3 separate regions of the Homo sapiens genome follow, and all the other regions are linked to region 2. Evidence: fine-mapped expression QTL. A gene starts in region 2. Each other region holds a variant in brackets. All regions are shown on one strand. Distances are from middle to middle.

Region 1 (5,282 bases), 430 kb before region 2:
ACTGGAAGGTAGTATATACTGCAACTTGTAATATTGTCATGCAGTTTTGTGACCTTAACGACTAAATTTTTATCGGCTGCATGGCCAATAAGATCAACTGTGGTGAAATGGGTTATTGAGTTGTTTATAAAAAAAGTTTAAGGGAAAAATATTGCTGAGTCAGAGATTGATTGGATAGACCCAAATTATATAAACAGTCTGATGGGCTGCTAGAAATAGATGAAAGGACATCTATAATTTGGCCATTTTGGGGTATATTTATAATGGATATGGTAAAGGACTAGATACTGTCTGGAATAATTTTGTGAATGAGAAATAGGTTCCTTTCTTTAGAGGGCAGAAGCGTTACAATGCTTTTTAATAGGCAGTGATACATTAATCCAAGCCAACCTTTATTTTTTATTTAGTGTAAATGACTGCACTATCTTGATGTAATTCTTATTTTTAAAAGGCATTTTAAAATCAGCAATTGCCACATTCTTTTTCACCTAAGGGAAATAAAAGGACTTTTATTAATCTAGTTTTATGCCTTCCGTGATTTTAAATATACAAAGGAAAAAAATTCAGATGTGTCCAAGGAATTAACTTGTCTTTACATGATTACTACATGTGTTAAACAACAGATTATGTTTTCTTTTTCTTTTTTTGGTCTAAAGCAGATATTATTGTGAGACACTGTAATCTAATTTTCTTGTCTGCTGGTTAACATCACAATGTCCAAGAAAATCTTGTATATTCAAATACAGATGATAGTATCCAACTTTTTCCTAAAAAAGTCTATGTTCTATTTTCACTCACAAGAAGCCTGTATTTGTGAAAAAAATAAGTATTTCCCCATAGTCATGTAACATTGCCCAGAGATCCAGAACCTAATGAGGGAAAGACAGTCATTAAGACCTTTGAAATGTATAATGGTGAGAGTATGGGATAGGTTCTCATGCAAGTTATACCTAACAAAACTTCTCTCCAAGAATGATATTTCTTATTTTTCAGTTTGCTATTTTCCCAGATGCATAACATCATGCTATCTAGGGTGTCTGTAAACACATGAAAATACTGAAGATAGTAAAACAAATTATATATCTCAAACCAATCAGTTCAAGGACCCTAAAATGTCACACTGGCTTTACTGATAGTATTCTCTACTGAACCGTGTTCCACGTCACGAATAGAAAATGCAAAGTGATCAGCCATTTCTTTCTAATTTAGCCCCAAAGGTGAATTCTCTCTCACCTCCAAAGAAAATAGTATCTTATTGGTTGAGGATGATATCATATCTATATGAGTGCGAAATAATTTGCTTCTGAAGTATAAACAAGAATTACATCAGGATCTGTTAAGTGGAAAAGTCAGCTTCAAAAACCCATGTACAGTACAATCCCAATTTTTGTGGGTGTCTATTTATATAGAAACAAAAGAATAGGATTGATCATCTCTGGATGGTGGGATTTCAGGTGACTTTAATTTTTGTCTCTGGTTTTTTTTGTTTCTTTTTTCTGGGACACAGTTTTGCTCTTGTTGCCCAGGCTGGAGTGCAATGGCACGATCTTGGCTCACCACAACCTCTGCCTCCTGAGTTCAAGCAATTCTCCTGCCCCAGCCTCCGGAGTAGCTGGGATTACAGGCATGCGCCACTATGCCTGGCTAATTTTTTGTATTTTTAGTAGAGACGGGGTTTCTCCATGTTGGTCAGGCTGGTCTCGAACTCCCGACCTCAGGTGAACTGCCCGCCTCGGCCTCCCAACGTGCTGGGATTACAGGAGTGAGCAACTGCACCTGCCTGGAATAGAAGTTTTTAACTGGACCCAAAACATTCAGAATAGCTCATATGTGTCTATGTTCTGTAACACAGGGGAATTATTAAATAATTCCCCTTTTCCCCCACAAATAATACATGAGTTATGAACCTGGAAAACTCAAGAGACATTATGCTGGGTTTATCAGCTTTTATGTTTTTAATTAGTTCATAATATAATGCAGCAGCTCTCAAGCGTGGTTCCCTAGCTAGCAAAATCAGTGACTCCTGGGAACTTGTAAAAAATGCAGATTCTCAAGCCCCGCTTCAGATTTACTGAATCAGAAACACTGTGTATGTTTTAACAAGCTCCGCTGGTGCTTTCAGTGCAGGCTAAAGTTTGAGAACTACAGATACAAAGGAGGGCTCTGTATCTGCAACAACAACTATGTAATGATGACTAGTCCCCACTCTTCCGAAGCTACCCATGGCAAAATTAGAAACATAATTCTTCAAAAACCACTGGCACTGATTTAGTGCACAGAACACCTGTG[G/C]ATAACTCAATTCCTTTTGTCCTTCCCTGTGTCAAGGCCAAAGGATCTAATGTGATATAAGCATTCCAGAGGTGGAAGGGAGTGGTAGCTACTCAAGACCCAGTATTTTTACAGGTGATCTTCAATGTGATCTGTCAGTAAATATCAATGGCTTTCAGACTGTAAACTACAGCTCACAGTTCATGATCTAGGATATATACATGTGGGTTTAAAACAGAAAGAAAAGTTTCTGATATGCTCTGGTAATTTCTGTTGTATTTCATTTTGAAAATGTTGGTTGTGACCCACTAAGTTGTTTCCAATAACCTTGTGTGTTGCAATCTGAGAAGTTAAAAATGCTACCTTAGATCAGAAAATTTTCACCCAGTCTATTGATAAAGTTCAGGGATACTTGTGAAATTATATAAAAGTTTGTATATATTTACATATTATATGTTTCTCTGCAAGAGGCTTCATAGCTTTTTGCAGACACTTAAAGGAATAGGTAACTTTTGAGAAGCTAGGACACATTGATCTAGATCCCACAAAATGGGCAGAGGATGGGATTAGGATTTCTGCTGCTAGGTGACCCCTGTAGCCCCCTGAAAACTCCTGTGGATAAGATTAGGAAGGCTCCTCAGGCTATTTTCTTCACCCCATATAAGACCCTCAAGGGTCTTTTTTTTTTTTTTTTTGAGACAGAGTCTCGCTCTGTTGCCCAGGCTGGAGTAGCTCACTGCAACCTCCACCTCCCGGGTTCAAGCGATTCTTGTGCCTCAACCTCCTAAGTAACTGAGATTACAGGTATGCATCACCACTCCTGGCTAATTTTTTGCATTTTTAGAGAGACAGGGTTTTGCTATGTTGGCCAGGCTGGTCTTGAACTCCTGGCCTCAAGTGATCCGTCCACCTCAGCCTCCCAAAGTGCTAGGATTATAGGCGTGAGCCACCGCACCCGGCCAAGGGCTCTCTCTATTAGAGATGGAAGGGTTTGATATTTGAACGGGCCTTCCACATTTATAAAGGAGTGCCAACACTGACATACAGTGCGCCCACTGCTACTAGGTCATGATTTAGGATTCCCGCAAACGGCTACAGGATCAGTTCAATCAGCCTCAAGGCCCTATTTGTCTTCTACATTCAAAAGAGACTAGTGGTTGTTGCAAGCCAGATTCTTCCACTTCAGCTTTAGAGGTAAGGGCTTTGGTCAGGTGACCTGCTGGGATAAGCAAAAAAGATGTGGCACAAGATTTTTGCCCCTGTAGTCACTAAGATGACGATCTAAACATAAACAAAATTGATATGCAGCCAACAGGCACCAGTATATCTTTACTGGTTGTTAAACTATTACAATACTATGTACCTTTGGTAAAGAACAGCTGTTCTAGTCCCAACTCCGACAGCTACCCTGACCCTTCCCTGTGCCTTCTAGAACCTCTCTGTGACTCAGTGACCAAAAGGTTAATGCCTGGCACAACAGGAGGCCTCTAGGAATCCATTCTGATTGGTTAGTACTCTTAACCTACCAGTAGTTACATATTTTGAGTATTTCCTGGACACAAATACAGCCAGTAAGGCAATGCCTCTGGCTACACATTCACTTACGCTTCACCACTGGAAGGTATAAAATGAGAGAGGTTGCACTGGCCTCACCTTGAAACTGATTGACCTGCTGCACTGGGTATGGATTCCGCTGTGGCTGGAGGTGCTGCCGGGGTAGATGTGATTGCTGCAACTGCTAGAACAACAGAACACAAGAGGGGTGGAGAGGTGAGATAGGGAGCAAGCACACAATTCAATATCCCAGCAGTTCCGAGGAAGGTAGTGTTTTCCCCAAAACTAAACTTTGTGTTGAAGAATCATATGCATACAGGCAAGTGCACAAAGTCTAAGGATAGAGTCAGGTAGGTTTTCACAAAACGAACACACTCAGGGCCACCAGCCCCCACATCAAGAAACAGAACGCTGCCAGGAGCCCCTCGTGCCCCTTCCAGTCATCACTCTCCCTTGACCCATGGGCATCACTGTCCTAACTTTTAACAACATAGAGCAGTTATGTCTGCTTTTGTACTTTGCAGAAAAGGATTCACATGATGCTGCTTTTGTGTCTGGCTTCTTGCATTCACCACTGTATTTGTGAGATTCATCCACGTGGATGTGAATTCTTGTTGCTTGTTCATTCTCACTGTTGGATAGTATTCCATCATATGAATATACCATAATTTATTTACCCATTCTACTAGTGATGTCACCTTTGGTGTTTCTAGTTTTTGTGTTTCAAATGTGACTGCTATGAACATTCCTGTACATGCCTTTGGTGAACATCTGTATGTATTTCTGATGTGTGGACTTGCTGGCTCATGAGGAATGCGTGCTGAGGGAAGGGGTTTTGACATGGACTGCCCAACATCAGCCTGCATGCTTTCCTTAGGCTGTGGGGACTGAGTTGAAAGGGACAAGCAACTGCTTTTTAATGACCTAAGTGGATGCTTTGGGCATAGGAAGATGACATCCTCAGGAGTTATACAAAAAAGGCTAATCTTATTCCCATGAAGCCACACTGCCTGTAAAATACATCTCTACATGTAAACTATTCAGCATTTACTGCTTTGAGGAAACCATGTGGGATTCCACATATACCAGCAGACCAGGAGGCCTGCATATTAGTCTTTCTTCTTCCACTCACGGGGATGCTGCACTGCTAGTGTTGCTACCAATATGCTGGGAAGGCTATTATCATTATCATGCTGTATGTGCAAAGGGAAAGAAAATAAGAGTGATGTAGAAAGAGCAGAGAAAGAGGTTTCAGTTCTAGGTCTGCCGTCAAGTAGCTTGCGTGACCTTGGGGATGTTGTTTAACCTGCTCCCTGCAGCTGCTGAATATTCATTAAGCACCTTTCATCTGCAAGGGCTATAAAGAATATACAACAAGGTCCCTGTTCTTTAGAGTGTTCATTATAAAAATAACACACACTGACCACCTCTTAACGCCTGTGTTTATTTCAATTTTTTCT
Region 2 (5,282 bases):
ATTGCTTTCCCCTCCCGCCCCCTCCAGGCCGCTCCCCTCTTAACCCTCCCAGCCGCTCCACCTGCCGGGCTAGCCCCGAGTCGCGAGCAAAGAGCGGAGCGCACCCGCGCCCCGCATCCGCGCGCGCTCCCGCGAGCACCCCCGCGCGCAGCCACCCTCGCTCGTTTCTCACCCACTTCAAAGTTCATTCACAAAACTCTCAGACTTTCTCAGCCCAAAGGGGGTGAGCTGGGGAGAGGAGGCGAGAGGCTCTCCTTCCCCGCTTCCCCCCTAGGGGTTGAGGGCCTGGTGCCCGCCCAGAACCTGCGACAGCATCAATATTTCCACGCACCCGGCGGATGTGCTGAGAGGGGTGGGCGTAGGGGGACGGGTCTGGGGAGGCGAGGCGGCGCGGCTAGAGGTGGGGTGGGGAGCGGCGAAGAGGAGGAGCAAGGTTTCAACTCAGGGGTTCACTCTTTCAAATCGGTATCTTAAGAAAGGGAAGGGGGGAAACTTTTCCAGCACCTCACTCCGACGCTCCTCTAGGCTCCCTCCGCCCCTCGCAGTCGTGACTGGCTTCTCCCCTCTCGCCCCCTCCTCCCCAAATCTGACAACCCTGACAGATTAACAGGTAGCGACGACGGCAGCTTTTTCCCTAAGAAAAGTTGACGTTAACCCTTAGGCTTCAGCCCACCTCACCCACCGTGCAAATCAGACCCTTGTACCCCCATGTAAGAAGCTCCACGCGCCCCCCACCACCACCACCACCCCCAACGCGCGCCGCAAGCCCGCTGCCCGTGCGCCCTCACCATGATCAGCGTGTGGTTCCTCTGCTCCGCCGAGGCAGCCTCCGCATCTTGCTGGGGTTTGCTCGGGTGCTGCTGTTTGCCGGTGCCGGCGCCCGATTTCTTGGCCCTCTGCTCCAGGGTCCGCTGGTAGAGGCTCACGGTGTCCCGGCGCTCCAGCTCCAGCTGCTCCACCTGAGCCTGCTGGTACCTGTTCTCGCAGTTGACGTGGTGCCGACGGCAGCCCTCGATGCGCTGGCGGAGCCGCTCCACCACGGTGCTGTGCTTGGGAACGGCCGCCGAACCGCCGCCGGGGCCCCCGGAGCCGCCGCATCCACCGGCTGCCGGGTGATTGCTACTCGGAGCAGCGGGAGTACTATTGGGAGTATTATTCACACCGATCCCGGCCCCGCCGAGGCTGCTGTTCAGGCTACTGTTGATGCAAATACTACTGCCATTCGCGGCAGCAGCGGGGGCTGCGAAATCCCCCATCCTGCTCCCCGGGCACACTATTTTGGAAGAACTTTTTTTATCCACCCCCCTATCAGCCTCCTCCTTGGGTCCAAGGATTAAAATAGTTTAAGTGGAACGCGGGGGAGACGCAAGCACATGGATGGAAACGGCGATCCCGACGGGGCGAAAAAAACGGGGGGGGAGATTTTGGGGTGGTTTTTGTTTCCTTTTTTTAAACTGTAAAAGCTCAAGGGGAAGAAAAGGGGGGAACGTTATCGGAATACCATCAGACACCTATCAACAAAAAGAATCACAACAAACTGAGCCAGCAGCAAATCGGGTTGCAACTCAAGGGGAGATCCGCTCCTTGCTTGCCTTCTTTTTATAATCCATTATTTTCTAATAAATTCCAGGAGATTTCCGGTGGTTGGCAAGCATTTTCTCCCTACATACCGAAAAACACACCCCATGTACACACACAAGCATATGCCTCCAGTGCGGACACGCGCGACACACACTCACTCCACACCGCATCGGAAAACGGCAAGCTTGCTTATTGCATTTTCCTTCCACAAAAAAGTTTTGGTGTTTATGCCGCCCCGTGTTCTCAAAGTACTTTGGCTGCTCAGTTGCATTTCACAGGAACCTAGATATCGAATCCTCGGGCTGGGGGAAGTAAACACATGGACAGTCCGAGGCGACTGCAAAAGTAGATCGGTGAAGTCCTTTGCAAAACGCCGCGCAGAGAGCAGCACCTAACGCTCGGCTGGGCTGCCGCTGCCGCCGCTGCTCCTGCCACCATCACAATGATCAACTGCTCGCCGCCGCCGCCGCCGCCGCCTCCTCCTCCTCCTCTCGCTCCTCCACCTCCTCCTCCTCCTCCATGCCAGCGGAGTGATATCAGGACGCGCGAGCTCAGTAAACACGGCAGCGGCGGCGGCTGGAGGCCGTGAGACAGGCCCGCGGACACGGCGCAAAACCCGGCCCGGACTCTCACCCGGCAGGAGCGGGCGCGGCACGCACCAGCACCCGGCTCCCGTCTCCGTCGCCTCGGCGCCCGGCGCCCCTCCTACGCCCCCAACCACACTACCGCCCCGCCGAGAAGCCCAGAGCCGTCGGCGACGGAGAGAAGAAAGATTCTGGGGGGATCTCAGAAATAAATCAACTTTTGACCTGTGTGTGTGCGTGAGAGCGTGTGTGAGTGTGTGTGTCTGTGTATGCGCGCGCGCGTGCGCGGGGACGCGCCTGGTAGGGTTTCCTTATTCCAAGGAAAGTATCAAGCGATCCCAAGTTGTTGTTATACATTTATGCATTATATTGCAGAACTGTGCATGACCAGGCAGAAACATTGAAGCTTTACAGCAGTTGTCTGTCATCCCTATCCATGTGGAAAGAAAAAGGCAAATGAGTGACTTGTTTTTAAAACCCAGGTAATAAGTCTGCGCTAGTAACAGCGCTACTTACGGACACTTGTTCCAAGTCTAGGCCAGACTGAACACACAAATACCAAATTCTAAATAAATAGAAATAGGCATCAAAAATGTGTAATATTTAACTCACTGTACATAATGATTGTTGTTACTAAGTCAATTATTGTTTTACTTACCCTTGGAAAAAAATAAAGCAAGCAGGGACTTGGAGGTGAGACTAACAGTACATTTAAACAGACTGTTTTGAACACTAGGTGCTAATGACAGCAGTAATTAAGGTCCTTCGTAAATCAAGTGGAAAGATTGCAGATTTCATAGACTAGAACTATAGAAAAAACACAGCATTTCACAGTTTGTCATGACCAAAACAAAAACAAGCAAAAATAACAGGCCTACTTTATTGCTGGATATATTTCTTTCCATTTCAATGAATTCACAATAAGTACAATTAAAATGGACTAGCAACTGCAGAAATCAATCTAAACTTTCCATTTTATTAAAGCACATTATCTTTCCCGATATTATCTAAAAACAAAAATAACAACTAAGGATCAAATATTCTTGAATATGGACTTAAACCATTGCATATACATATTTTTAAAAATTAAGATGGAGAAATTATTATTTCTCTAATAATCAGTAAACTATAAATCTTGATTGTGAGATGTTAATTATAAGTCATTTTGTATTATTTCAATAAATCTTAAGAATTAGTTTTTAGGGTAAAAATACACCCCAGTTTTCTAAAATAGCCAGGAATAAAAGAACTTTGGATCTTATGCATTAGTCATGAGATCTGATTTAAACCATCTTCATTTCTTGGCATTGCAGATTAGCACAGGATGCTATTTCTAACCTCATAATGTCAGCGATAAGAAGCTATATTTTTCTTCAATTAATCAGTTCTATATAGTGAACGATATTTTTAATATTCACTGGATATATGGCAAAATGGGCAGCAAAATATTTAATACGGTGTGAGGCTACTTCTAAGCAGTAAAACCAACTTAAGAGAGTGTATATTTCATTGAAGTTGCCACACTTTTTCTGAAGGCTATTTAGTTAATATACAAATTTCTGTATCAAACTGCCCTTCTTCAAGTCTCAGTCAGAAAATTTAACTGGACTACGTCTGTAGCAAAAGAGCCCGTTCAGATTCTGAAAATATGTAGAGAATTTTAAGAAATTAGAAAAAGAGGTAGCAAAGTGGCCTTTATCTTTTTCACATATTCACTAAATAATATCTCTATTAACTCAGGAAACACATGGCTTCGCCACAGAGGGGAAGCTATGACTCTGCATTCGCTTTGCTCTCTCTTCACCGTAGTTTAATTCTTTTTTTTTTTTTTTTTTTTGAGACAGAGTCTTGCTCTGTTGCCTAGGCTGGAGTGCAGTGGCGCCATCTTGGCTCACTGCAACCTCTGCCTCCCGGGTTCCAGTGATTCTCCTGGCTGAGCCTCCTGGGTAGCTGGGATTACAGGTGCACGCCACCACACCTGGCTAATTTTTGTATTTTTAGTAGAGACGGGGTTTCACCATGTTGGCCAGGCTGGTCTGAAACTACTGACCTCAGATGATCCACCTGCCTTGGCCTCCCAAAGTGCTGGGATTACAGGTGTGAGCCACTGCGCCTGGCCACACTGTAGTTTAATTGTTATCCCTCCTCCTTCACTTGCCTCCATCACCCACAAAAGACTGCAGTTTGATTTACAGAGGCAACAAATTTGAGGGTCTTAAGCACTGGGTCTTTAGTTTTTGAGACTTGGGTTCTCATTTTAGCTTTTTCCTGTGACTCAGAATTTAATTATTCATTGAGAGTTTCTCATTCTGGGGAAAAAATGACAACAATAGCAGCACCATGTATTCCCTTCAAGCTGTTTACCTCTCCTACCATGAAGGGAAACCAAAAAGACACAAGAATTTGCATCCTTCCCTTTGGGGAACCAGCAGGTGGGACAGCACACTTTGTGGTTTTACCACAGAGTTCCCCAATGACAAATGAAGCTCTTCTTGCACAACCACAGTATACTTTGCTGCCTGATTTTAGTGCATGAATGGGCTATACCCAAAAGAAAAACTGTTACATGTGTACACACAAACAAGCGCACACACAGGCACCCGTCTTTCATCTCTCCAAAATGGGAGTGGCAGCCACAAGCTCCATGCCCCAGATGTGGGGAAAGGAAGAACTGTGAAACTGTGTGATGGCCAGAGGGGAAGAATCTTTGAGAAACCGACCTGTGCAGGACTCTGCTGTGACGTACCAGAGGTCAGAAACCCCATTCTCATTGTGCAGGAAGATTAGAAGAAAGAAGCAAGAAGCAAGCAAGGCTTGCATCTTGAGCAACATATGCCAGTCACCCTGAATTAGAGATGTTGATCTACTCCAGTGACCTTAGAAGAAACAGAGACCTTTATGCTGGCTACTTCCAGATCCCATGATATGGTCCTGCAAGGTTTCCAGCTTTGTTGGTCACCTTCCTAAAGAACTCCTTGAAAGTCATAGAGAAATCCAAGTTCTGGAGAAGCAATTTTAGTCCCTTCTCACAGCACAACACTGACAGCATGACCATCTTTGTCTTTTCTGTGAGCCTGCTACAAGGCAAAACTTCAGGATGAAAGCGGTAGACACAGC
Region 3 (5,282 bases), 280 kb before region 2:
CTTGGCACATAAAGCGCTCCATGAATGGTCACTGTGAATATGTACCTTACTGTGGATCAGAGTTTCTCAGCTTCTGTACTATCGACATTTTGGGCTAGATAATGCTTTGTTGTGCAGAGACTGTCCTGTACATTGTAGGATATTTAGCAGCATCTCTGCTCTCTTACCCACTAGGTGCCAGTAGCAGCGTCAATTCCCCGTTCCCCTCACCCCACCCTACCCCTGGCCCCCAAGTTGTGACAACCAAAACTATCTCCAGATGTTGCCAAATGTCCAGTTGGTGATTGGGGAACAAAACATCTGAGGTTGAGAACCACTGCTTTAGATCAATCCAAGTTCTAGCAGATGAGAATAACTCCATTCTTCTTTTGATGTATTTATTAATATTTTTAAGCCTTGAAATGAAAAATTGCTTTTTAAGCATTAGAAAATGCATACTCTTCTTTTGAAAGCCTAGCAATAAATCCCATAACTATCAGGGTCTTCGTTTCCTCATCTTGAGCCTTATTTCAAGGCTCCCTCTGTTCTAAATTCTGACCTTGAAAACTCTATTCCTACCTCTTTCTTTTTTTGGACAGGGTCTCACTCTGTCGCCCAGGCTGGAGTTCAGTGGCGCAATCACAGCTAACTGTACCCTCGACCTCCTGGACTCAAGAGATCCTTCCACCTCAGCCTCCTAAGTAGCTGGGACCACACTTGACTAATTTTTGTATCTATATCTTTCATTTCACCAAAGATTTAAAACAATTTCTCACTATGAAGAAACTTATACAAGCAATATACATTCAACAGGAAAAATGAGGAAATTCAGATAAGCAAAAAAAGAAAGAAAGGAAAAGAAGTATCAGTTGTGTTTCCATTAGTTAGAACTACCTAGGGCTAACATGATGATGAGTGGGTTTTCAGATGTTTTTGGAATGCATGTTTGTGTGTACATACACAAATATACATGCAGTCACACAATACACACATTTTATTTCTTGTGTGCTTATCATTTTTTCATGGTATATCATTTTTTCATGGTCATTAGTTCTAGCTATCTCCAGACTTGATGCTAGACTATACATTTTTTCTCATGTATGACATTCCTCAAGAAGTGGTTCGACTCATATGTCTTTCTTTACCTACCACCTAGATAAGCCCCAAATTCACACTGTTACTCCTTTATTTCTCCACAGAAAAATAACTTTCATTACATGTACAAATGACAATTAAGCCAATTAGAGTAAACAACTTTTGGTCAATTCAGCTCTCACTTTGCCAGGAACCAATGGCCATCCTCAGTTTTTTTTAAGTATGGAGGTTTGGAAGTCAAATTTGACGCCTTTCTTCCTTTCCTGTCCCCACCCCTGCCCACAGTCACTTCCACAATCTCTTGCTTTTTCTTTGGACCTATTTCCAGGGTCACACGCAGTCAGGTCCTAATTATTTTGTTCCAGGTATGCTGTTTCCTAGCATCTCTCCTGCCAATCACTTTGATCGAGATAGTACTCTCCTCTTTTCAGAAACCTACAATGACTACCCATTGCTTCTTGTATCACAAGCTGAATCTCTCTAATGAGCTTTGAGGGGCTTCCACACTCCCCTGGGTCCTCCTCCCTGAGCTGTGTCTTCCTCAGGTTGCACTTTTTGTTCCTTATTAACCCTTCGCAACCCAGTTTCCCTACTCCCCTTTCTGATCAACAGTCCATTAAAAATAAGGTAAAACAATGCACAGTGCTGACGTCTTTTTAAAAAGAAGAAAACCCTAGGACACTAATACAATTATCCTTTTGCTTATGCTTCAGTTATCGGTTGTAACTACTTGTTACATTAATTGGGTGTATCTTTGTTACAGAGGATTAATAAATGTTTTATTTATTTATTTTAGTTTCAAAAACATGCCTTGAAATTTCACCAGATTGGGTGAAACGTGTTTACAATACTAGGAAGTGAACAGCAGGCACTAATTTTTTGTAGCAGTATTTCTCATCAAGGCACATGCATTTACCTAATCCAAAAGATGGCTAGCTTTCTCAGTTAAAAGGTATACAGAGAAATAACCCTTGCATTTGATCATTGTAACTTGGACAACATTTCACTCTATTGAATATAAACGGGAATCTGTATGCTGTTATTATTTTAAAAAAAATTTTTTAATCCAGCTTTTAGTAGAGGATAAACTTCTTAATGGCAAGGACCATGGCTTTTACTTCCTTTGTGAGGCTCACAATAATGGGAACACAGCTTCATGTGCAATTGGTCTTCAATAAATGTTGCTAGGTGATTCATATTTGAATGGGAAATGGAAAGAAAAGCCTGACGGACTTAAAGGATTTGTGTGCATGCATCTTGCTGTGAATAATACAAATGTGGAGAGAGATGACTAAGTGGACAGCATAGGGCATAGAGAGCTTTGGCCCCTGAAATACTCAGTAACAGGAAGTTACAGTGTGACTAACTGTAACCAGGTTGTGAAATGGAAAGCAGAGGAACTGGAGGATGTACTGGAAGAACTCAGGGGTGCACACAGAAGTGAACTGCAGCATCAAAGATGTAATGCCTTTCCGGGTGAGAACTTCAGAAGGAAGGACAGCACAGGGGACAAAGGAAGGGATAGAAATGATAAGTGTCTTAAAATGAAAAGGTGATGGAAAGAATTCTTAAGGCAGAAATAAAAATCCTATCAATAACAAGGTTGGGTTTAGAGTTAAAAAAATAATCACACGGCCGGGCACAGTGGTTCATGCCTGTAATCCCAGCACTTTGGGAGGCTGAGGTGGGTAGATCACCTAAGGTCAGGAGTTTGAGACCAGTCTGGCCAACATGGCAACACCCCGTCTAT[A/G]CTAAAAATATTAAAAAAATTAGCCGGGCATGGTGGTGGGCGCCTGTAATCCCAGCTACTCAGGAGACTGAGGCAGGAAGAATTGCTTGAACCCAGAAGGTAGACGTTGCAGTGAGCTGAGATTGTGCCACTGCACTCCAGCCTGGGAGACAGAGTGAGACTCCATCTCAAAAAATAAATAAATAAATAAATAAATAAATAATCACGCAGATATTTTGTTTCCTACTTTAAATAAAAGCAAGGCTTCACATTTGACCACAGAATGTTGTATTGCTTCTCTGCTATGTGGCACAGCTTTGATATCAGGTCCAGGACTGCTAAGTGAAAGAAAAGAAATTTCTGGTATGTTTGGAGCCTATGATTTCATCCCTCCTCTCACTCCAGCACATCTGATCTATGTATCCTCAAAAATGGAGCTGCTCACCTTTGCCAGCTCAGTTCTTCCCATCCTAAGCTTTCCTGAGCCAGTACCACTTAAGCATGTTATAAAATGCCAAAGCCATTCATGGTCATTATGGTGTCCACAAATATGTTCACAAATTCTTGACACTCCCTTCAGAAGGGAGAACCTAATCCCTCTCTCCTGGAGTGTGGCTGGACTTAAATTATTTTGCTTCTAATGAATGAAACAATGAAGAAACGAAGGTGTGTGATTTCGATAGTATGTCATGAAATGAACTGTGGCTTCCTCCTTGGTCTCTCTTGAAGCTGACTCAGGGGAAGCCAGCTGCCATGTCATGAGAAAACTTAAGCAGCCCTGTGGGGAGGTCCATGTGGTGAGGAACTGAGGCCTCCAGTCAGCAGCCATGGGAGGGAGCCACATATGAAGTAGAGTCTCCAGCCCCAGTCAAGCCTTCAGATGACTGCAGCCCACTTGACAGCTTCACGGTAGCCTTATGGAAGAGCCTGAGCCATAACCACCCAGCTAAGCTGCTCCTGCATTCCCTTGAAAACCATGTAAGATAATAAATGTTTGTTGTTTGAAGTGGCTATGTTTTGAGCATAAGTTGTTACACAGCAATAGATAACTAATATGGTAATCTTTCCAATAGAGCTCTTCTTTACTTTGGAGTTAAGTTTTTAAGTTTTATTAAAAGGTCTTTTCATTATTTTGGAATATGTGTTTACCTGCATTTAATATGTAAATGGATCAGATGTTATAAAATGTTCAGGTAAATTAAATCCCACCTTCTTTTTTAGCTTCTGATTTTAACAAAGAGAAATGATTTTTCTCATCTACTGAGGTACCAGAAACAATGAGGGTACTGTAAGGCCTCAAAGAGTCTAACAGACCTCTAGAGTTAGGAGTGGGGAGTGGCTAGATTATGTCTTGAGATGTTTTCCTCATTTAAAATCATTTAACATAAACAAAAAAGATGGCATTTTAATATTGTACTTTAAAATATGAAAAATAAATAGTTTTTATTTTAAATAGAGGTAAATTATGCAGGAGGAACAATCTTGTCAGAGCCAAGATTGATTTTTTTTAAAAAAATCACCAGTGAAACTTGCTAACAGTTGGCTTTTAAAAGAGAACAGTAATACACTTTTACCATTTTGTTTACAGTCCCTGTCTATAAAATTTTCACATATATATGATAATATATTTCTTCCAGAATCTTTCTATCTTTGTATGCACAATGCCTAGACACCACAGGCACATAAAATATGTTGAATGAATGAATGAATGAATGAAACTGGCTTAAAGGAAAACTGAAGAAACTTACACTCTCCTAGAGGATTAAAAAAGTACAAATCACACGATATGATTAATGTTTTTAATTTTAAAAACACAGTACATCCTATGGGTCTGATACTATTTTAAATGCTTAACGTAAACTAATACACAGAGTCATCCTAATATCTCTATTGATTATCATCCCCTATCTTTCCTTTTTTTTTTTTTTTTGAGATGGAGTCTTGCCCTGTCGCCCAGGCTGGAGTGCAGTGGCGCGATCTCAGCTCACTGCAAGCTCCTCCTCCTGGGTTCACGCCATTCTCCTGCCACAGCCTCCCGAGTAGCTGGAATTACAGGCGTCTGCCACCACGCCCGGCTAATTTTTTGTATTTTTAGTAAAGATGGGGTTTCACCATGTTAGCCAGGATGGTCTCAATCTCCTGACCTCGTGATCTGCCCACCTCGGCCTCCCAAAGTGCTGGGATTACAGGCGTGAGCCATCATGCCCAGCTGATCATCCCCATCTTCTAGATGAAAACCTAAAGTACAAACAGGTTATATAACCCGCCCAAGGTCCTGCAAGTTCTGAAGTGGTAAAGTCAGGATTTGAAGATCTGTTGTGGCTTCAGAGCTGACTCCCGACCTCTACACTCTGCCACCCTCCCTACGAAGGCAGCTCCTTATATGATCCTACCTGATGTCATACCTAGGCAGTTCTCAAGTCAGGAGAAGGTGGAAGTGGTGGGAGCGCTGCAAAAACGGAGAGAACTGTGACTGCTT

The links. PIP is the estimated chance that this variant, and not a neighbour inherited with it, causes the effect.
Region 1: its variant is the best candidate, but not a certain one, in a credible set for the expression of MAML3 in whole blood (TOPMed, PIP 0.68).
Region 3: its variant is the best candidate, but not a certain one, in a credible set for the expression of MAML3 in monocytes (TOPMed, PIP 0.57).

What each region holds. Positions count from the first base shown.
Region 1 is chr4:139,721,830-139,727,111 of GRCh38, forward strand. MAML3 (mastermind like transcriptional coactivator 3) reads right to left here. Exons shown (of 5, transcript NM_018717.5): 4 at 3,922-4,006. It also overlaps a transcript of MGST2 not described here. Among named protein-coding and RNA genes, the nearest start is that of MGST2, 59 kb to the left of the region's middle. The variant G/C (reference allele first, on the strand shown) is at 2,290.
Region 2 is chr4:140,152,072-140,157,353 of GRCh38, forward strand. MAML3 (mastermind like transcriptional coactivator 3) reads right to left here and starts at 2,113. Exons shown (of 5, transcript NM_018717.5): 1 at 789-2,113. The coding sequence starts at 1,256.
Region 3 is chr4:139,870,089-139,875,370 of GRCh38, forward strand. All of the region lies in intron 2 of MAML3 (mastermind like transcriptional coactivator 3), which reads right to left. Among named protein-coding and RNA genes, the nearest start is that of MGST2, 210 kb to the left of the region's middle. RefSeq lists an enhancer at 5,094-5,282. The variant A/G (reference allele first, on the strand shown) is at 2,825.